5 separate regions of the Homo sapiens genome follow, and regions 1, 2, 3 and 5 are each linked to region 4. Evidence: fine-mapped expression QTL. A gene starts in region 4. Each other region holds a variant in brackets. All regions are shown on one strand. Distances are from middle to middle.

Region 1 (4,116 bases), 46 kb after region 4:
CAGTGGCTCACGCCTATAATCCCAACACTTTGGAAGGCCGAGGCTGGGGGATCATCTGAGGTCAGGAGTTCGAGACCAGCCTGACCAACATGGAGAAACCCCATCTCTACTAAAAATACAAAATTAGCTGGGCATGGTGGCGCATGCCTGTAATTCCAGCTACTCAGGAAGGCTGAGGCAGGAGAATTGCTTGAACCCGGGAGGTGGAGGTTGTGGTGAGCCAAGATCGCACCACTGTAATCTAGCCTGGGCAACAAGAGCAAATCTCAGTCTCAAAAAAACAAAAAACAAAAAACAAAAACAAGCAAACAAAAATTAGCCAGGCATGGTGGCGCATGCCAGTAATCCCAGCTACTCAGGAGGCTGAGGCAGGAGAATTGCTTGAACCCAGGAGGCAGAAGTTGCAATAAGCCGAGATCGCGATCGCACCACTGCATTCCAGCCTGGGGAAAAAAAAAAAAAAGTCATGTCCACCTTAAATAATGGGCTGGTTCCTGCAGGAGGAGAAGACAGCATTACAGGCTAGAGTTCAAGTGGAGGGTTAAGACATCAAGACAGGGTTAAGAGCAAGGACTTGGAGCTAGTCAGTTAGATCTGCCAGTAACTGTCAATGTGATCTGGAGGAAATCAATTTATCTCTAAATCTCAGCTTTCTCCTCCGTAAAATGAGGAGAACTGTGCATGTCTCATAAGGTGTGTACATACTGAACGTTGTGAAGATTCTCAGAAATGCTCTGTGTAACATGATTGGCCTGTCATAAGAACTCAGGAAGCTATTATCACCCATCACCATCATCATTACCAAAAAAACTGCTGACAGAAGCATTCACAGGAAGGGAATAGGAGAAGGTGGTAATGAACCTGACAGGGGACTTTTGTGGCTGGAGCAGGCTGGGGAAGAAAGTGCTGAGAGAAGGCCACTCCCTATCTTCCTGAAGATCTCCAGCAACCCTAGGAGAGACCCACATCCTGAGCTGAGCTTTCAAGGGCCCAGGCTGCATCTGGCTGGAGGGAGTTTGTTTTATGTGACAACTCGGAACGAGGGAGCCTCTACTCTGGGGGTAGGGCCTTGAGGCCCTTGAATAAGGACAGCAGTTTATCAGTCCTGTCTCCACCCAACCCCAGGAAGAGAGAAACTCAACTCATCAATCTCCCTTCCATAGAGTAGGTATTTTTTTATTTTAAAATAATTGCGGCGTCTCCGCTGCCGCTGCCGCTGTGAGCGCTGCACCGGCGCCCTCTGCCATTGCCGCTGCGGCCGCCACCCAGGGTCTCCAGGCTGAGGACTGCGTTGGCCACTGCCCAGCAGCGTCGCAGAGCGGGGAGCAGGAGCCATGGAGCCGGCGGGAGGGCGGGCGGATGGGCAGATTAGCCTAACAGGGCAGACCAGAGACAGCGTTCACTGTCTACCTCTGGGGAATCATTGTGCCACAGTCTTGGGCTGGACAAGAACGCAACCTCAGATGACATTAAAAAGTCCTATCGGAAACTTGCGTTGAAATATCACTTCGACAAGAACCCTGACAACCTGGAGGCCGCAGACAAGTTTAAGGAGATCAACAAGGCCCAAGCCATCCTGACGGACACCACATAAAGGAACATCTATGACAACTACGGCTCGCTGGGGCTCTACCTGGCCGAACAGTTTGGGGAAGAGAACGTGAACACCTACCTCGTGCTGTCCAGC[C/G]GGGGGGGCCAAGGCCCTGTTTGTCTTCTGCAGCCTCCTCACCTGCTGCTACTGCTGCTGCTGTCTGTGGTGCTGCTTCAACCGCTGCTGTGCTGCGGGAAGTGTAAGCTCAAGGCCCCTGAGGGCGAGGAGACAGAGTTCTACGTGTCCCCCAAGGCTGCAGTCTGACGAGAGGGAGGCCGCAGACACACCGATCATCATACAGCCGATGATGGGGCTAGGGGCCAAGTCCTCCTGGCGTCACTGGCATCGCTGTCATTCCTTGGTGTCTGTGCTAGGCACAGTTGGCTTGGGGTCTGTGGTTTCCTGGGCCTTGTGGCAGGGTTTCTCCCGTGGGGGAATTTGGTGTGGAAAGCATAGGAGGCCCCTTCCGAGGTTGACACCGTGTCCTCCGCACAGTGTTTCTATCCTGGGTCTCCTTGTCACGTGGACTCTGCGGCTCCAGTCCTTGGAGGTGTGTCCTTCGCCCACATTGGGGTCGTTTGTCTGTCTTCCTGCACTTTTCCCGGCTGTGAACTGGATTGATGGGGCCAGTCTCCTCCTCCCCTGTCCTGGGGTCATTCTCCACATTCCTTCCAGCCCACCTGTCCTTTCCGTAGCCCTCTTTGGACCTTTACAACCACAGATGGTAGCACCAGCCTGATGAGCCACAGTCAGGAGAGTAGATCGTCCATGTGTAAGCATCTAGCCGCTGGGGACGGGGGCTCTTCCAAGACCCTCCTCCCGTGTTTGCCAGAGCTCCCATCTGCTCCAGTTGCCTTTGCCCTGTCATCGATGATTCAGGCAGAGCCAGATTCGTTATGTCCCTGGAGGAAGGACTGACTGGACCAGAGTGACCCCTCTGGCTCAGAAGGGTTGGGTCCCTGGGAGGCCAGCAGCCAGACCACGGAATCCACGTGTGGACCATTGGAAGTCAGTCTTTTGTCTGTCCTAGACCTTGTTGGTGGCGCCCTGGGTAGAGGAGTGGGGGAAACGGGTCTGATGTCCCTGTGCTGGCCGAGGGCTCAGAGCTGCCCCCACTCTGTGGCTCACGGGATATGCTGGGCCTGCCTTTGGCCCCATGCTGCAGACTCAGTGGGCCTGGCTTCTGCAGAACATCCATGGTGGCCGCTGCAGAGTTCTCAGCAGAGATGAAGCTGAGGAAGAGGCTGTGTGTGGTGGCTCTGGCTGGGACCAACCAGATGAGTCTCCTGAGGCCCTTTTTCCCGGCCTGCCTGCTGACTCATGGCCCCAGCTCACTCATGGCCCTCAGCGGCCCACCCAAGGCTGTGCAGAGGGGTGGGTTGAGGTTGACCAGGAAGTTGCCAGAAGGGACATGGGTGAGGACAAATCTGGACGTGCTTAGGAGCGGGGTGCTGGTTGAGGGCCCCCAGCTGACCCCTATTGCGGATCCCCATGTGGGTGATGAGCTGGCTGCCAGCACCAAGTCCTGGGGCAGTTTTGTTTGTCTCACTTTTCTTTGGTTTTTCTCCCTAAAATGATCATGAAGACCTTTGATGAGAGGAGAGCTATGCACTGTGATATTAAATTAGAAATAATTTGTCAAAATCAGACCTCTCCTAAAAGAATAAGAAATTCATTGTTTGGCCCATCCTGAAATGCGAGGCAGCGAGACGTTGGGGTGCCTCCGTGCCGTTCAACACAGCAGCAAGTTCAGCCTCAAATGCTGGCTGTACTCAGCCTTTGCAATTTTTGCAGATGTAGCTTAGGAAGTGAGTTATTTTTCCCCAGACTGGCCAAGAGCCAGGTTCTAAGCTTGGACCTAAAGTAGAAAGCCACCTGTCAGGGGGCCTGGCTCAGCCCCACCAGGCCCTCTGTTGTGCCTGCACACAGCTCTGTGGCTAGAACACTCCAAGGCCCTTTGGTACCCATCAAAGTGGGCCCCTTGCCAGGTGGCTTTTCAGTTACAGAGTCCAATGGACCATTTTTTAGAACCATGCAGCTCCCCGCAAAGGGTGGGGTAGGGTGGGAAAGAGGAGCAGGTCTGGAGGTTTGTGGAACCCAGTTCCTACAGAATTTGTAAAACCTAAATAAATCATGGCCATGAAAATTCTCACAGTGGTGATTGTGATTATAAGACACCTAGGAAGCCCAGACACTCGGGGCCTGGAGTTCCTCCCACTGCCTGACCTGGAAGCAAAACTGTTTCCGGTGTTCTGCCCTTTAGGTTTTAAGGCCTTGTCTTAATTCAGGAAAAAGAACTTCCCAGGTTTTCTCTTTTTCTTGAGTGGACTGTTTCCCTATTAATTAAAAGAGGTGGTGAGTCCCCGGGGGCAGCTTACGCGCCTCCTTGTCCACATGCTAACAGATCAGAATGCCCCCAGCACCCCTGCCTGCTGGTGGCAGTGACAGGACCCTGACTCCTCACTCTTGGGCTGCGGATGATGCTTGTGAGCCACTGTGGCCATGGGCACAGAACGTCCCATTGG
Region 2 (4,116 bases), 50 kb before region 4:
TCCCGCCTGGGCAACAGAGTTAGACTCCATCTCAAAAAAAAAAAAAAAAAAATATATATATATATATATATATATGGTTTGGATTTGTGTTCCCACCCAAATATCATGTTAAATTGTAATCCTCAATGTTGGAAGTGGGGCCTGGTGGTAGGTGACTGGATCATAGGGGCAGATTTCCCCTTTGGTGTTGTTCTCATGATAGTGAGCTATCACAAGATCTGGTTGATTAAAAGTGTGTAGTGCCTCCCACCTCGTTCTTTCTTCCACCTGCTCTGGCCATGTAAGACAAGCCTGCTTCCCCTTTACCTTTCGCCACGATTGTAGCTTTCCTGAGGCCTCCCTGGCTATGCTCCCTGTACAGCCTGTGGAACCGTGAGCCAATTAAACCTCCTTTCTTTATAAGTTACCAGTCTCAGGTATTTCTTTATAGCATCAGTGCAAGAATGAACTAATACACACATTATTTATTTCTAAACTTTATGCAGACACAATCAGGGAAAGATTGAGGATGTGCTGGTATATTTCACCAGCTGCTTGCATTAGGCTCAACGTAGAAATCTTGGGATATATATTTATCACCTGTCAATCCAAGCTAAAGGTGTCCATCAAGAGAATATTTTCACTGTTCAGCAGGCAGCAAGAACTCCTTCCACGAACTCACATACTGATGAGGACAAACACCCTTGGTACATATCTCCCTTTGTTCTTTTTAAACTCCCTCTTCCCTTAAAGGCAGCCACCCCAAGGGGCAGCATGACAATAATGAAGAAGCCAGATGTCCACAGTCCCTCTTTCTGCAGCTCTGGGCTTCATGAGGTTGCAGTCGGGTGCCCATTCAACACTGAGAGCACTTCACAACAATAGAAATACACCAGGACTCCAAGGCGACACCCAAGCTTCAACTGCTTCAGGTTGAAGACTAAAACATCACTGGTATGATTTTGATTTATACTTTTTGTCACAGACGAGTTTCTGCTGACAGTGGACAGGGGTTGGGCTGTCTGTCTCTGCTAAAGTGGCCCTTGTGTCCTCTTAGCAGTAGTGCTGGGTGCTCTGCCCAGAGTCTCACTTACTATGGAAAATGAAACATCAAAGCTACCATAGGTAAGTATGAGCATAAGGAAAGAAGAGCTTCTTAAAGAAGCTATGGCAACAGGAACCTGGAAGTCTGGAATTGTGTAATATCCATGGCTTCATAAAAGAGAGGTCACATGTTTACCAAAATAACATTACCTTTAGGAGGCAAGGCCAGAGAAATGGGGAAGCTCAGAAGTATCCTAAATTTGATAAATGTATTGGGAATAAAGATCTTATGGTATGTTGCTGGGGACCGTTAAAGAAATTTCTTTCCTACAAAAATACCAGGACAGCCAGGATTGTCTATAAACCATTTAATTTCTTGATAGATATCGTTTGTTTTCCAGCTTTTCACTTTCATGAACAAGCCTGGGATGTGCAGTTTTGAGTGTTTGTCTAATTATTGCCTTTAGGTAGCCTCTGAAATATTATGCTAGATACAGTAGGAATGGTGCTGGGTGCAGGGGGTCAGGGGAGGGGGAGGTGTGGAAGCAGCTGAACTTGGTGAAGGTGACATTTAAAAGGGAATCCAAAAAGGCAAGAGAGTAAGTGCAGGGAAAAACAAACCGGGAACAAAGAAGACAAGAGCAGGGAGAGACAATGTAGGTTTTTGTTTTTTTTTTTTTAATAGCTTTGGTTGCTTATATTTCACTCCTAAGCTTGTAGAACTGATTACTACCCCTCCTCTGTAAAAGCCTCACCTCTTGGTTACTTCATAACTCTCTGACCACTCCAGCCTCTCCTGGTTCCCATTTCTCTCTTCACTATTAAATGTAAGCCTTCCACGAGATTGTTTTTCTCCCTAGGGACTCTCCTCTGCCCATGGCTTTGGCCACCACATCCCTTGGCCTATATGCCAGGTCCTTTGTTCCAGTTCCAGCCTTTCTCCTGACCACCAATATTGCATTTCCTTCTGGGGGTCTCCACCTGGATGTCCCACAGGAGTTTCAAGCTTAA[C/T]AGGACATCAGAAGTTTGTTACATACAACGAACAATAACTGTCACTCTTATGCAGAATGCGGGAAACAGTAGGCTGGAGGGCTATGGAGAAAACAGGAGTGAATAAACCACAGTCTCTGCCCTCACTGGGCACATAATTCTGGGCAGAAGGCAGCAAAAATGCAAAGTGAGGTCAGCCATGGCAGGTTGGAGGCCTGTCAAAGAGGCTGTAGATACTGACAAAGAGGAAAGAAAGATCACATAGACAGGCAAATTAGGAGGAGCTCCACAATGTGGTAGTAAATGCTATCTTCAAGGCAGCCTGAAAAGGGGACTTGAATGAGCAGAGAGGAGGTGGCAGGAAAGGAAGACATTCCAATGGGAACAAAGTTCTGCAAAGAGCACAGCACCACCCTGTTAAGAAGATTAAGACCTCAGGGTCTTACACAACCATCCTGCTGACCTATTCTGTTTCTCTCTAGTCATTTCCTTACACACGAAGCTAAACTGGGAACTGCCATATGCAGGAAAGCCTATTAAATTCAATCAACAATGAAGAGCCCTTGAAGGTCTTAAGCAACTGAGTAACACGGTAAGCCTCTGGCAGCAAGGGGGGATAGTCTCTTAAGAATGGAGGACAAGTTGAGATCCAAGAGATCTCCAGCAGGCCACTGGACATTGAAATCTGGAGTTCAGGAGAAGAATCGGGGTGCTACAGCCCCATATCTAAGAATCATCTTCCAGAGGAGGGCAGATCAGCACCAAGGGGGTGTGGAGAGACAGGATCCCCAGCGGCAGAACCTTTCCAAGCAGCCATACTTAGGTGGCCCGGAAAGGAGCTGAAGCTGGTGAAGGGCCAGAGAAGGTAGTCATAGAGGTGGGAGGCCAGCAGAAAGCAGGGAAATGGAAGTCAAGTAGGGGAGCTAAAGAGAGAGCCCTCAAGTGTTGTGCATGTTCAAGGAGAAAGACTAGGGAGGGACCCATGGACTTAGAGATGTGGAGTCTATGCCCAGGGAGGAGGAGGACTAAAGACAGACTCATGGACTTGGAGATCAGGCATCTATGCCAAGAAGGAGCAGGACTAAGGAGAAACCCATGGACTTGAGATGAGTTTTCCATGCCCAAAGAAGAGGAGGACTAAGGAGAGACCCATGGACTTGAGATGAGTTTTCCATGCCCAAAGAAGAGGAGGACTAAGGAGAGACCCATGGACTTAGAGATGAGGGATCTTCTCTGCCGCCATGTATTAGTCCTCACCGCCAGGTCTTCCTACTCCTCTCAGACAGCCCAGCCTGTTCTCAGCATGCCCTAGAGTCCTGCGCCCCCAGGCCTCTGTTGACTTCACCTCTACACTCTCATCGATCCAGTCCCACTCATTCTGTTTCAGTCTCCTTCACCTTTCTCTTAGTCATCCCTCTTCTGGACAATTTCACTGTGACATGGAACTGACCATCTCCTGGCCTCCTCCGTATTTCTTCTTCACTTGGTCCTGTACACTTTAGCCAGATGAGTTTCCCTAGAACCAAGCTCCAATCATGGTGTCCCCTGCTCAAATACTCTTCATAAGACTCCCCATTACCTACTGCTTAAAGGTCAAACTTCTTACAATGGCAGTCAAAGCTCTTATGTGCAGCTTACTTACCATGAGGGTGTCTCCTACAAAGCCCTTATGGATGCAAACCAAGCTCTTTTCTCCCAAATTGCTCTTATTTCTCTTAGGCTACTCACTGCATTCAGACTTAGACCAGAGGCAATGCTTTGTTCCCTTGCAAGCAATCATAACCCACCTCCACATCTGCCCAGTTGGCTGTGTCTTTCTCTTGTACAAGACTAGGCTCATTACTTCTTCTCTGAAATGTTTGTCACATTAAGTCCCCTCCTTGGGTAGGAGCAGAGGTCTCTCCTGGAAGAGGTAGCTGATAACTAGAAAACATGCAACTCAGTAAGGAGACCTTGCCCCTAGAGGAAAGGTATACCTTCCTTTCATGGCCTTTTTAGGGCTGGAATTTGAATGTGGTCGTGCTGGAGAGGGCTCTTGAGTGATAGAAAGATGCCTCCATGAGGAGGCAGGTGGCAAACTAAGAGGGGCACCACAGAAGGGCC
Region 3 (4,116 bases), 29 kb before region 4:
CAAGTGTCCATCACCAGATGAAGGGATAAACACGATGTAATATATCCATACAGTGGAATATTATTCAGCCTTAAAAAAGGAAAGAAAATTCTGACACAGGCTACAACATAGATAGTTCTTGACAACAGCATGCTAAGTGAAAGGAGCCAGTCACAAAAAGACAAATACTGTATGATTCCACTGATATGAGGTGCCTAGAGTAGTCAAATTTGTAGACAAAAAGTGGAATGGGGGTAGCCAGGGGCTGGGGTGAGGAGGGAACAGGACGGAGAGTTCTTGTTTTATGGGTACAGGAGTTTGAGTTTTGCAAGATGAGGAGAGTTCTGTGGATGCATGACACTGATGGTTGTGTAATAGTATGAATGTACTTAATGCCGCTGGACTGTATGCTTAAAAATGGGTAAGATGAGAAATTTTGTTATGTATATTTTACTACAATTTTTAAAAATACAAGAAAAGGAAGTGAGGGTGGAGAGGAGGAAAAAGGAAATGAATGAATCAGGATGCAGAGACAGGGCAGAGATTAAAAATAAACACACACACGCGCGCGCGCACACACACGCACACACACACACACAACCGGAGACAGAGAATTTCACAAATTTCTTTTCCTGTCCAGGTTTCAGTTCCTGCCCAAGACCTAGCTTCTAGTCTCCTCCTGTTCGGTAAAATCAGTTTCCACGTTTGCATTTTAGTTCTCCCCTCTTGGAAATGCATAAGCACATTACCATACTAAAGCCTCTGGGAAATCCTTCCGGAAAGAAACCTGTTTCACTTGGTTTTCCAAGGCACTTCCTAAACCTCTGTCTTTAGCAATGCAAGCCTTGTCTCATTTAATAACCAGAGACACCTGACCAAACACACGTGTGAAAACACAGCCGTAGCCAATGGGAACCTATGCCCTTGAAGCAGCAAGTGCCAAGAACATCCAGGTGTCAGAGAGAGTCAGAAAGACCCCTCTGGCAACTGTGTGGGGAGCAGGCCGGAGGCAGGTGGTTGTGTGGCTGGCCCCTGGAGGGGAAAGAGGGTGCCAAATAAGCAGCTGAGAGGAGCCCTCACGTGCTGCCTATGAATAAGCATTCCTCCTCTGCACCTGCCTGCAGGATGGAGAAACGTGTCCTGCCCGGGGAATCAAGAGACAAGGGTCTCTGGCCTGACACTGCCACTCCCAGTGTGACCTGAGCAAGTCCCCTCCAGCTCCAGATCTGCTCCAGGACAGTGAAACTCCCAGTGATATGAACTCTGTCTGTATCTGCATCCACTGTCTCCACAAACTCCTAGCAAAGCTAGAACAAAGTGAAGGGTCAGCCCCTGACACCAATTCTCCCCTAAGATGACAAAACAGGAAAGGCCTGTCTCACTGGCCCGTTCTCTCACTGCGGGGAGGAGGGAGAGTGGAAAATGCACGTTCTGTCCCAGGTGAGCTGGCGGGATCATGTAACAGAAGCAACAATGGCCCTAGGGAGACCACATCCAGCCCAGCCCCTGCCTTTTCAGATGGGAAACTGAGGCCCAAGAAGGAAAATGACTTGTCCAAGATCCTGTGGGTAAGGAGCCTCTGATCCAGGCCTAGGACCAAAAAAGAAAAGAGAAGGGGGCAAGCTGAGCCTGGTAGTGGGCCTCAGGCCCTTCTAGGGGTCCTGCAGAGGTCATGCCACCCAAGCCAGCCATCTGTAGCATCAGAAACTCAGCCACTGACTCCCTGCCTGACCTGGAGACAGCCTGTAACTCCCACCTCTCCAATCTCTCAAAAATAAAAAACTTTCCATGTTC[G/A]AAGTTCACGTGGCATTTCTAGGACTGAGGAGACGATCATGTGAAATCTACTCACTGGCTCATTCTAAAGCATTTGCCTTACACCTACCTTGAGCCAGGTGCAATGGGGATACAAACAGGAAACAAACAAGCACTGTGATACCATGAGCAGCACAACTCCAGGGGGGCCCAGGGCTGAGCCCTAGAGGCTGCTCCGCACCGTCTCTGTTCCAGACTTTCTCCCAGAGAAAGGAAATAAGGCTCGGGCACCTCGAAAGTTTAGGATAAATGCCAAATGTTAGCCTCTGCTGCCCAATGTCTGCTTCAGAATTCAAAATCAAACCAGTGTTTTCTCTTGTCTGTCAACTGTCCCCAGCTAGCACTGACATTCACTAAATAAACCACAGTAAAATGCGGGGCCAAGCCCAGCCCCCTCCCTGTTTTCCAAGCCTCACCCTGCAGCCCCCTGGCCAGCAGCTCTCCCATGTCCACCATGAGCCCATCCAGAGCTCTATGCTCCTGCTTCACTGGGGTCTGCTGAGGACACTCTCAAGACACCAAGAAGCCAACTCCCATCCACAATTGTCCAGAAAGGATCAGACCAAGGAGCTGGTTCCTGCAGAGCCCTCCCTCACTGAAACTCCACGCCACAAATCACAGCAGGAGGCCCAGGAGGAAAAGCATTTGGCACCACGCTTTATGGAAAGGACTGTCTTCCTAAGTAAAGCCACAAACCCCATCTAGGCCTTGGAAAGCCCTGTCTCACCTTCCAGCATCCTTAGAAGGCACACACTACAAATGCAGAAACCCAGACCACATCAAGGAGCACCACGCACACAAAAACCGTTGGCACTACCCGTCCAAAACCACCCGTTCCCCGTCCAAAACCACCAGCCTTCCTCACTCAAACCTGCTCCCTTCCTAGGCTCCTTGGCAGAAGAGGGACTCTTAACAGGGCTTTGGATAGTCCCACCCTGGCCCTTTGAAAAGCCATGTAAAAATCATGCAAAATTGGCCAAGTGTGGCGGCTCACACCTGTAATCCCAGCACTTTGGGAGGCCGAGGCGGGCAGATTACCTGAGGTCAGGGGTTCGAGACCAGCCTGGCCAACATGGCAAAATCCCATCTCTACTAAAAATATAAAAATTAGCCAGGTGTAGTGGCACACGCCTGTAATCCCAGCTACTCAGGAGGCTGAGGCAGGAGAGTCGCTCGAACTCAGGAGGTGGAGGTTGCAGTGAGCCAAGATCGCACCATTGCACTCCAGCCTGGGTGACAGAGCGAGAATCTGTCTCAAAAAAAAATCACGCAAAATAAGCAGGAGGACATCACTCAGCATCATTCCCACACGTCGCAGGCAAGAGCAGAGCAGCACAAATAATCCTTTAACTGCAGCTCTCAGAGTATAACTAACTTTATCCCTAAGTTGAAGTTTCCAAATCGTGTCTTTTTCTAACATCTCCCAAACTGGCAAAAATAAATACACAAAGAGAATATACATATAATACATATACATACACACACACACATATATACACACATATATACATATACACACATATATATACACATGCATATATACATATGTATATACATACATATACATATATGTATGTTTTTAATGAAAAGGAAAATTTGAGCTGGGTGCAGTGGCTCACACCTGTAATCCCAGCACTTTGGAAGGCCAAGGCAGGTGGATCACTTGCTGCCAGGAATTCAAGCCCAGTCTGGACAACATAGCAAGACCCCATCTCTTCAGAAAGTAATTTTTTAAAAAAATTAGCCAGGCATGGTGGGTGCCAGTGGTCTTAGCTACTTGGGAGGCTAAGGTGAGAGGATCACTTGAGCCCAGGAGACTGAGGCTGCAGTGAGCTATGATCATGTCACCGCACTTCAGCCTGAGAAAGACTCTGTTGCAAAAAAAAAAAAAAAATTGGTGCTCTTAATGTTTTGAAACCAGCAACAGAAAAATGATTCCCCTAAAAGTAGTCATTGCCCCCACTTCAAAAAAGTGGGGGATGGGGTGGGAAAACAAATGCCTATCAGAATACATGGCGGGGGACTCAAGCAGAGTTAGAAGAACATACATTCTGAAAAAAGCTTCCTGCTCATCTGAAAAGTCTCTGGTGAAAACTACCATTTTGGAACAAGCAAAGAGCCCAACCAGCTTGCTAGAAAGTCAGCCAGAAAAGCTATACCAAGACAAAATGAAGAGTTGAGACCTGGTGGAAAACACTTCAACTAAATCAGGTCTACGTGGCTTTCCCTGCCTCACCTACAGGAAGGCCTAGACTTCCTTCAGCGTTCAGGTCACCCTGATGTTGGAGGGGGGAGAAAGTGGATTCATATGTGTGAGAACAAACC
Region 4 (4,116 bases):
AAACATATCAACATGTATGGGGCAGGGAGAAACTAAACACAGATCACACAATTTAAACGTGTGAGAAACGCCTCTTGAGAGTGTCAAAGGGTGCTCAGAAGGCACAACTAATTATTTCTAATCCTAAAAATAAGCTAAAATGATGCTCTAAAGTGAACTCACTGTGGGGTTCCCGAATAGAACATTCATCTCAAGACACCAGTAGGACTAGGGCCTGCTCAGATAACACCTCCCTGCTCCTAACTTTCCCCAGACTCTGCCCAGGGCAGTTGAGACAACAGCTTCAATCATGGAGAATTTTATTACATTTGAGGGATTCTTTCCCATACAAATGCCACCTGGTATCAGTCCAGTGTCTTTCCTGGAGATGAGAACCATTCCTCTAACTCCCCACTGGGACACTGGAGGGACATATGGGTGATGGCTCAGGCTTAGGTCCAGCAGCACCTTGGAAGCCCATGTCTTTCCTCACTGGACTTCTGCCTGTCCAGACACTGACTGCTGGCTCCAAGCGAGCTCCCCGGAGCCGGGAAAACCCTCTGAGTTATACTTTCTGGCCTTCATACCTGCTCATGCAGGACCAGCATCAGCAACAAGATAAAGCTGCTGGGGGTGCCTCTGTGGGACCTGCCTTGCAAAATAATTGCCACCTAGAGAGGCCTCCGAATCCTCCAAAGCACACTGCAGCTGCAGCCAGAGGATAGGAGGTGGTGTAGGAGCCTGGGCAAGGTAATCGGTTCGCCTCTCTGCGCCTCAGTTTCTTCATCTGTTAACCCCCAGGGCTGTTGCATGAATTAGGCGAGTTATGCCTATAAAAGTGCAACGTGTAACAGTCAATACTGGCATTACTTCCTGCACTACTCTATCCTGGCCCTGGGGTGTTCTGGGCAGGCTGACAGAGGGCAGGTCTCAGTCTACCAGGCAAAACGCACCTAGTAACGCTGCCTCTTTACAGAAATGCAGTTAAAACTACCGGGGCAAGTGACAGACAGGGTTTAAAGGAAACTGAGTGCCTCTCACACAATCCACAGCAAGGGCTGTAAGGCACAAGCCCACCCACCTCCCCGCAAGCAAAAGGAGAAGGCAAACGTCATTGCCTCCCGGCGGCTCGGCGACCCAAAGTCGGGGGAAGAAGTGCAGGAACCCTCAGAAAGGGGATCCCACGGGCCGCTGTCGAACCGGTAAAGAGCTGCCACTAGTCGAGAGAAGACTTGCCGGCCCCAAGTTCCCGAAATAACCCGGGGAGCAGCAGCCACACACCAAGTCCCGAGGGCGCGCGGCCGGGCCAGGGCCACACGTTTCTCAGCTCCAGCGTGGTGAGGGCTTCCCCTGCGGGGAGCTCCCTCGGAAACCGCGCACGTGTGGGCGGCCCCAGCCAGCCCGAACGGCCAGCGTGGTAAGACTGTGCAGAGCTTCAGCGATCGCGTCCCCCGGGAGCCCAGTCGCCGCCGAAGCCAGCGGTGCTCGCCACTCCGCCTCCCCCGCCTCAGCGCCGCCAGCAGCCGGGGCCGGGCACGCGGCTGGAGCAGCGGGCGGTGCGGGGCGAGGACCGGGCACCCTCGCGGGGTCGGCGGAAGGCGCGGCGCCCAGGCTGCGCGCAGCTGCTCCTGGGGCGACCCCGGCCAGCCGCGGTCCTGGGGAGAGCTCGGTTTCGGGACGCTGCCCCGAGGCTGCCGGCGCGCGGGATGCAAATGCGCGCGCGCGCTCCTTCTCCGCTCGTTGCGTCCCCGAAGTCTCCCCGCGCCTCACCTTCACCGAGTCCACCGGGTACATGACCGAGTGCTCCAGGATCCCGGCCATCGCTCCTGCTGTCATGTGGGTGGACACGGAGGCGCTAGTCGGCAGGTTCTCGTAGTCCTCCGACCCGGTGGCGTCCTTGCCGCCGCCGCCATCTCGGCTGTCCCCATCCATCCTCCGCGCCACCGCCTGGCTGCCCACGCTCCCGCTGCGCAGCTCCATCCGCCAGCTCGGCGGGGCGCAGGAGGCTGCAGGAGGTGGGCAGGGAGGGGGAGGGGCGCAAAACTTCACTTCTTAAAGTGGGAGCCACCTCCCCGGGGCCGCGGCGCCTGACGCCATGGCGGGCTGGGGTGGAGCGCAGCGGCCAGAGACACCAATCGCCGGGAACCAAGAGGCCGGCGGCCGCCGCGCCATTGGTGTGCGGGACAGTGGGGACCCGCCTCCCTGTGTGACGTCACCGTCCCGTGCACATTTCCAAGCAACCGGACGGGGGCGAGAGGAGACGTGGGGTGGCCCGGAAAGTTGTACTATCTTGAGGATGGGCTGGTCCGCGAGGGGCAGGGGAGGTCATTGGGGAGGGGCCGCAGTGGGGTATGCCCAGAGCTGGAGGCATGGGTGACAGTGTCTCGGGGAAAATCCGTCCCCGTGGCGGGTGGGTTTGCAAACAGAATCGCTCAGTGAGCTTTGGCATTCCTAAGGCCTGAATTCAAACCTCAGGGGCCCGTTCTAGACTGCTTTGTTGGAGAGACCCCCATTCATTCGAAATTGTTTCTCTCAACCTAAATACATAATGCAGAGCTAAATGTGTTCCTCTTGTTCTCACCGAGAGACCGAACCCACCCTGCCCTGGACCGAGCAAGGCTATAAGGAGTGACCAGGAGGGAGCCCCTCTGAGTAGGCACCTCCAGGAAATTTTCTTTGGGTTTGATAGGCCCATAAGGTCTGTAGAGGCCTGATCTCACAGTTAGGAGTGTGAACTGGCTGAGAGTAAAATCTTACAGCCTTGCCCCTGCCTGTCTTAAGACTGTGGTCACCTAGTTCTTAAAGTCGTCCTAAGCTGGCCTCTTCAATAAAGTGTAACCCAGGCTGTTTTAATATTGTTTTGCTCCAGTCTGGGGAAAAAGGGAGAAATCAGAAAGTAGGGGAGGGACCTGTCTGCCTCTGGAAGTGTCCGTCTAAATTGCGTGTTCCAGGGCTTAAGATGACTTGGGCTGATCAACTTGTAGGCACCAGGGCCTCCCTGCCTTATCTAGACAAGGCTTCTCGTCAGGAAAGCTGGATCCTGAGATATGAAAGGGTGGGGAAGACCCTGAAGAGGCTGAGCCTACTCTCTGCCCTCACCGTGATCAGCATCCCAAGCAGCTCTTAGGGATTTGAGATACAGTAATGTGAGCATGGGTAGAGGTCAATAGAGGCGTCAGGACCAAGAGCACTGTTTGCCTAGTTTTGGTAGCTGCAGATAGTAGCTGGCAAGCTGAGTGCTAAGGATGTGATAAGTAAAAACAGGCTCTGTGTTTTTACTTAGCCATCTCTGTAATGGCTAGAGAAAACTCTACTTTTGTCAAAGGTCGTTTTTAAGAAATACTGATCAGAAGCTGTTGATCCTTATTTTTAAGTGGATGCCCTTTAAGCATTAAGTCTGTAAGAACCCACTGCCCCACTTCTGGGAATGTAACAAAAACCCAAATACACAGGAAGCTCTTCTTCAAAGCATTCCTTAGAGCAGTAAATCATTGGAAACAACCTAAATGGTCAACCAGAAGGGAATGGCTAAGGAAATTATGATGTGTGCATAATATTAGTGAAATATTATGCAGCCTTTACAAGTGGAATTTACATTACACGACATGGACGATGATTATAATGTAATGTTAGGTGAAAAAAACAAAACGAAATTCTATAACCATTGCATTCACAAAGATGTAAATGTGCTCAGGAAAAGAATCGCATGGTTACTGTGCTAGTGATGGAGGCTTATAGGCAACTGCTTTGACTTTATTTTTCAGACTTTAAATAATACTTTTATTATTTCTGTAATTTAAAAATAAAAAACCATTCTTTTTAGGAAATATATACCATATTTACACATACATACACACATCTATATATAGAAGTATATATGTATAGAATATAGATATGTGCATATGTATAAGATATATAGATAGGATATAGAATATACACATATGTACATATATAAAATATGTTGATTTGTGTATATAAATATATATAGATATATGTGTATATATAAATGTATTTTTTTACTTAGCCTCTCAGCATTCATATCCATGTGTATATATAAAATATATATACATTTTATGTATAAATATGTACATTTTATATATATAAATTTTATATTTTATGTATGTTTTATATAAATTT
Region 5 (4,116 bases), 34 kb before region 4:
ATGCATAATTTTGTCTCCTTGAAGCAGAGACCTGGCTTTCCCCTCCTCTGTCATCCCTAGGACACCATCCAGGAGGGAAAAGCGCTTGCACAGGTGTGATGGTTAATTTTATGGGTCAGCCTGGATGAGCCACAGTACCCAGATATTTGATCTAACACTAGTTTAGATGTATGTATGAAGGGATTTTCTAAATGAGTTTAACATTTAAATCAGTAGACTCTGAATAAAGTAGATTAACCTGTATACTGTGGGTACATACACCTCATTTAATCAGCTGAAGGCCTCGTGAGAAAAAAACTGGGTCTCTCTCAAGGAAGAAATTCTGCCTCCAGACTGCCTTCAGACTCAAACTGTAACATCAGCTCTCCCTAAATCTCCAGCCTGCAGATTTTGGACTTGGCTAGTCCCCACAATCATGTGGGTCAATCCTCAAAGTAAATCTCTCAATTTCTAAGTAGGTAGGTACGTAGGTAGGTAGATCAGACAGATAGGTAGGTAGGTAGGTAGATTAGATAGGTAGGTAGGTAGACAGACAGACAGACAGAGACAGGTAGGTAGGTAGACAGACAGACAGACAGACAGATATAGATAGAGAACAGGCAGAGAGTTAGACAGATAACCTCTCTATGTAGCCGGATATAGATGTCTCTGTCTCTCCTGGTTTCTGTCTGCTAGGACCCAAGGAAGGTCTTCAACCAAAGGCTGGTCTTACAAACCCAAGTAGACTTTACACATCCTATTACCTGTTTCTCTGGAGAACTCTGACTAGTATATAGGCAAGAAATACTCGCCAAGTAGAAGATCCACCATGGCTCAGTCCCACCAAAGTCACTACATTCCCTCCTTCCTTCTTCCTCCCTTCCTTCTTTCCTGCCTCCCTCCTTTCCTTCCTCCCACCCTTCCCTTCCTCCCTCCCCGACTCCCTCCCTCCCCCACTCCCCCCCAACACACATCCTAGAGGAGAAGCTTTTCAACTTTTGGCAGGGGTATCCTTTTATCTCCAAACAAAATCATAAAAAAAATCTAATCCTACATATAAAAAAGGAGGGCTTCTCTGATTGAAGATGGGCAAAGGACTCTCTGGGGCTCCCTCTCACTCACCGGGACAGAGAGCCCCAGGTACCCCAGGGCTTGGAGGAACGGTGAAAACCAATCACCTGAATTAGTGGTCATTTTCATAGTTCAGATTTCACCAGCTATTAAAACCACAAAGGAAATGGACACACCAAGGCAAACTTTTTATTTTGCCCAGAAAGGACGCAAAAACAATAACAATATAAGCAACAATCACCACTGCCCTCCACCACAAACATGATTTTGTAAAAGAAAGGGCATTTTTAATGCTTAAAAAAAAGTAAGGAAGACTACCTCTGATTATAAAATGGTACTTTAAATTAGATTTAGCTTTATTTTTATTTTTTTCTTTGACACGGAGTCTCACACTGTTGCCCAGGCTGGAGTGCAGTGGCACAATCTCGGCTCGCTGCAACCTCCGCCTGCCACGTTCAAGCGATTCTCCTGCCTCAGCCTCCTGAGTAGCTGGGATTACAGGCGCCCTCCACCACGCCCAGCTAATTTTTTATATTTTTAGTAGAGATTGGGTTTCACTATGTTGGCCAGGCTGGTCTCAAACTCGTGACCTCGAGATCCACTTGCTTCGGCTTCCCAAAGTGCTGGGATTACAGGCGTGAGCCACTGCACCCGGCCAGTTTAGCTTTATTAAAAACTCGCTACTCTGCACCCTTTTTCCTACCACAGACTGGCAAAAACATCTTCTGGCCCAGCCCAAGGCAGCTGCCAAGACACCTGGGCCCCAGGGTCCCAGGGAGGGTAGCCCTGCATCCTTTCGTTTTTTAAAGTGATTTCAATTTTAAGTCTTTTCAAAAAGGATTTGATCTGATTTAATAAGATGATACATTAGGCTAGGTGTGATGGCTCACACCTGTAATCCTGGCGCTTTGGGAGGCCAAGACAGGAGGATTGCTTGAGGCCAGGAGTTTGAGACCAACCTGGGCAATATACTGAGACCTCATTTCAACAAAAAAATAAGAAATTAGCCAGGCATGGCGGCACACCTCTGTAGCCTTGGCTATTTGGGAGGCTGAGGTGGGAGAATCCCTTGAGCCCAGGAGTTTGAGGCTGCAGTGAGCTATGTTTGTGCCACTGCACTCCAGCCTGGGTGACAGAACAAAACCCTGTCTTAAAAAAAATTAAAAATTAAAAAAGGGATATATTATAAGCAAGAAAGACCAAGGGAAGGACGAGAAAGTGAATGTGCCAACCAAGAAGGTAT[C/T]TGAACCAAGAGAATACCCAGGTCATGGTCACAACACCTCATTCAGCTCCCGAGTGGCTGTTGGCCAGACCAAACGAATGAAGATGTACACACCATGCCAAGTGTTCATGCTGGGAAGGAAGAGGCAAAACTCCTCCTTTAGGACATATGAAATCGCTCAAGTTTTAGAGCAAATAAAGCTTCACGTGTCACCTGCCTTCTTCTTATACTTGCCCCTGACAAAAAGCAAGGGTACCAGGTGGTACAATGTGGCTGTCAAGAACCCCAGCTTTGGAATCAGAGAGAACTGGGGCTGAATTCAGATGCCATCACTCATGGTGTGACCCTGGGCAAGGTCATTAAACTTTCTAAGTTTGAGTTTCCCCACTTGAGAGAATGGTTGGGAAAATTAAATGGGATAATATGTGTCTAAAACCATCAATATTGTCAGTAATAACACAAGAGTCCCCTGTCGAGGGGCTACATGACGGTGATTCATGGAGAGGCCAAGTGATAGGGTTCTAGTGTGTGACCTTCCAGGGTTGTGCAGGCCACAGAGGTGGGGTTGTGTTTGTCTTGTTCACAGCAGATCTCCAAGGACCAGTAAGATGATTTATTGGGAACCCAATAAATATTTGTTGAATGAATGAATTGATGAACAAACTAACCCAACTTAGAATACCCACCGGGGTGAAAGGGTACTGTGTCTTGTCTCTTAGCCCACCACCCCTAAATAGGAGCCACACTTTCTTGGACTTAGCTGTGCTTGCCATCACCTTTAATTTGGACCTTTTCACATCAATGCAAAGTTCACGTGTCACCGCATTTCTCAAGCCTGGGTGTGATCTGCAGAACCACATATGGAGCCAAGGCAACCTGTCCCAGGGGGCCTAACATGGGCCTGTGAACAAGAGGTGGCTCCAGGCAGCGCCCTTCAGGGGAGAGGCCCCCACACTTTGGAGAATGGCAGTGTATCTTCTTGGGGATGAGCCCTGGCTGGAGCCCTGAGGTTTCCAGCCAAGGGCAGGGTCCTACCAAGGTTTTGCAAGCCCAGCCTATGGTCAAAGGCCTTCCTTAAGTTCCAGAGCCCCATTGAGCAGGGCTGGCAGTCTGAACAAACACAGAGCATGGAGAACTGGCTACTGAGATCGCACTTTGGACCTGATGCTGGCTCTGGCTACAACCCAGTGACCTTGGTCACGGCATCTCATCTCTCCGGTCCCCAGTGTCCTGGACTGGAAAATGAAAGGGAGGATCAGAGCAGGGGCTGAAGATCAGAGTTACCCGGGAAATGTTTGAAAATACCCATCCATAGACACCACCCTAGCACACACTGATTCAAGTCTTCTTTTTCTTTTTAAAATTCCCCAGATGATTTTGATCAGGACTCAGCTTGGGGAACCACTAAGTGACCATCTAGACCCCTTCCAGCCCCAGCCCTCTGCCTGGGCAGTAGGGAATTACCCCTGGTGACCTATGGAGGGAGTGGCTGAGTGAGGGCAGGGGGCACAGAGAGTGCCCAGGCTGTACAGCCACCCAGCCTGAGGTTGTCAATCTCAATTCCAGCTCTGGGACCTCAAGCAGGTTCCTTAACCTTAGGGCATGGCCATCCTTGGCTGGAATAATCGCCCAGAGAGCTGCTGGGAAACACTTGGCACAGGCTGGCTGTCAATAATGACTGTCCCCATCCCACCCCATGATATACGTGAAGCCATCAAGAGGGTCTCTCCTTTACAAAACTGCTCATGTCAGCCAGTTGGAGGCTGGCATCACACCAAAACTTACAGGGACATTTGGGACTGATTTCTCACCCCCTCCCCTTTTTAAATTAGGGGTAGAGCAGT

The links. PIP is the estimated chance that this variant, and not a neighbour inherited with it, causes the effect.
Region 1: its variant is the best candidate, but not a certain one, in a credible set for the expression of SLC25A37 in whole blood (INTERVAL, PIP 0.88).
Region 2: its variant is the best candidate, but not a certain one, in a credible set for the expression of SLC25A37 in whole blood (INTERVAL, PIP 0.51).
Region 3: its variant is the best candidate, but not a certain one, in a credible set for the expression of SLC25A37 in fibroblasts (GTEx, PIP 0.60).
Region 5: its variant is the best candidate, but not a certain one, in a credible set for the expression of SLC25A37 in whole blood (INTERVAL, PIP 0.90).

What each region holds. Positions count from the first base shown.
Region 1 is chr8:23,480,797-23,484,912 of GRCh38, reverse strand. ENTPD4-DT (ENTPD4 divergent transcript) reads right to left here. Exons shown (of 5, transcript NR_186533.1): 3 at 1,673-4,116. It also overlaps the pseudogene LOC646708. Among named protein-coding and RNA genes, the nearest start is that of ENTPD4-DT, 25 kb to the right of the region's middle. RefSeq lists an enhancer at 2,345-3,313. The variant C/G (reference allele first, on the strand shown) is at 1,688.
Region 2 is chr8:23,576,788-23,580,903 of GRCh38, reverse strand. No RefSeq gene overlaps it. Among named protein-coding and RNA genes, the nearest start is that of SLC25A37, 50 kb to the right of the region's middle. The variant C/T (reference allele first, on the strand shown) is at 2,035.
Region 3 is chr8:23,555,800-23,559,915 of GRCh38, reverse strand. All of the region lies in intron 1 of SLC25A37 (solute carrier family 25 member 37), which reads right to left. Among named protein-coding and RNA genes, the nearest start is that of SLC25A37, 29 kb to the right of the region's middle. RefSeq lists silencers at 481-540, 851-940. The variant G/A (reference allele first, on the strand shown) is at 1,774.
Region 4 is chr8:23,526,846-23,530,961 of GRCh38, reverse strand. SLC25A37 (solute carrier family 25 member 37) reads right to left here and starts at 2,006. Exons shown (of 4, transcript NM_016612.4): 1 at 1,750-2,006. The coding sequence starts at 1,959. RefSeq lists enhancers at 903-972, 2,263-2,312 and silencers at 1,473-1,722, 1,773-2,132.
Region 5 is chr8:23,561,291-23,565,406 of GRCh38, reverse strand. The region is part of intron 1 of SLC25A37 (solute carrier family 25 member 37); the gene reads right to left. Among named protein-coding and RNA genes, the nearest start is that of SLC25A37, 34 kb to the right of the region's middle. The variant C/T (reference allele first, on the strand shown) is at 2,294.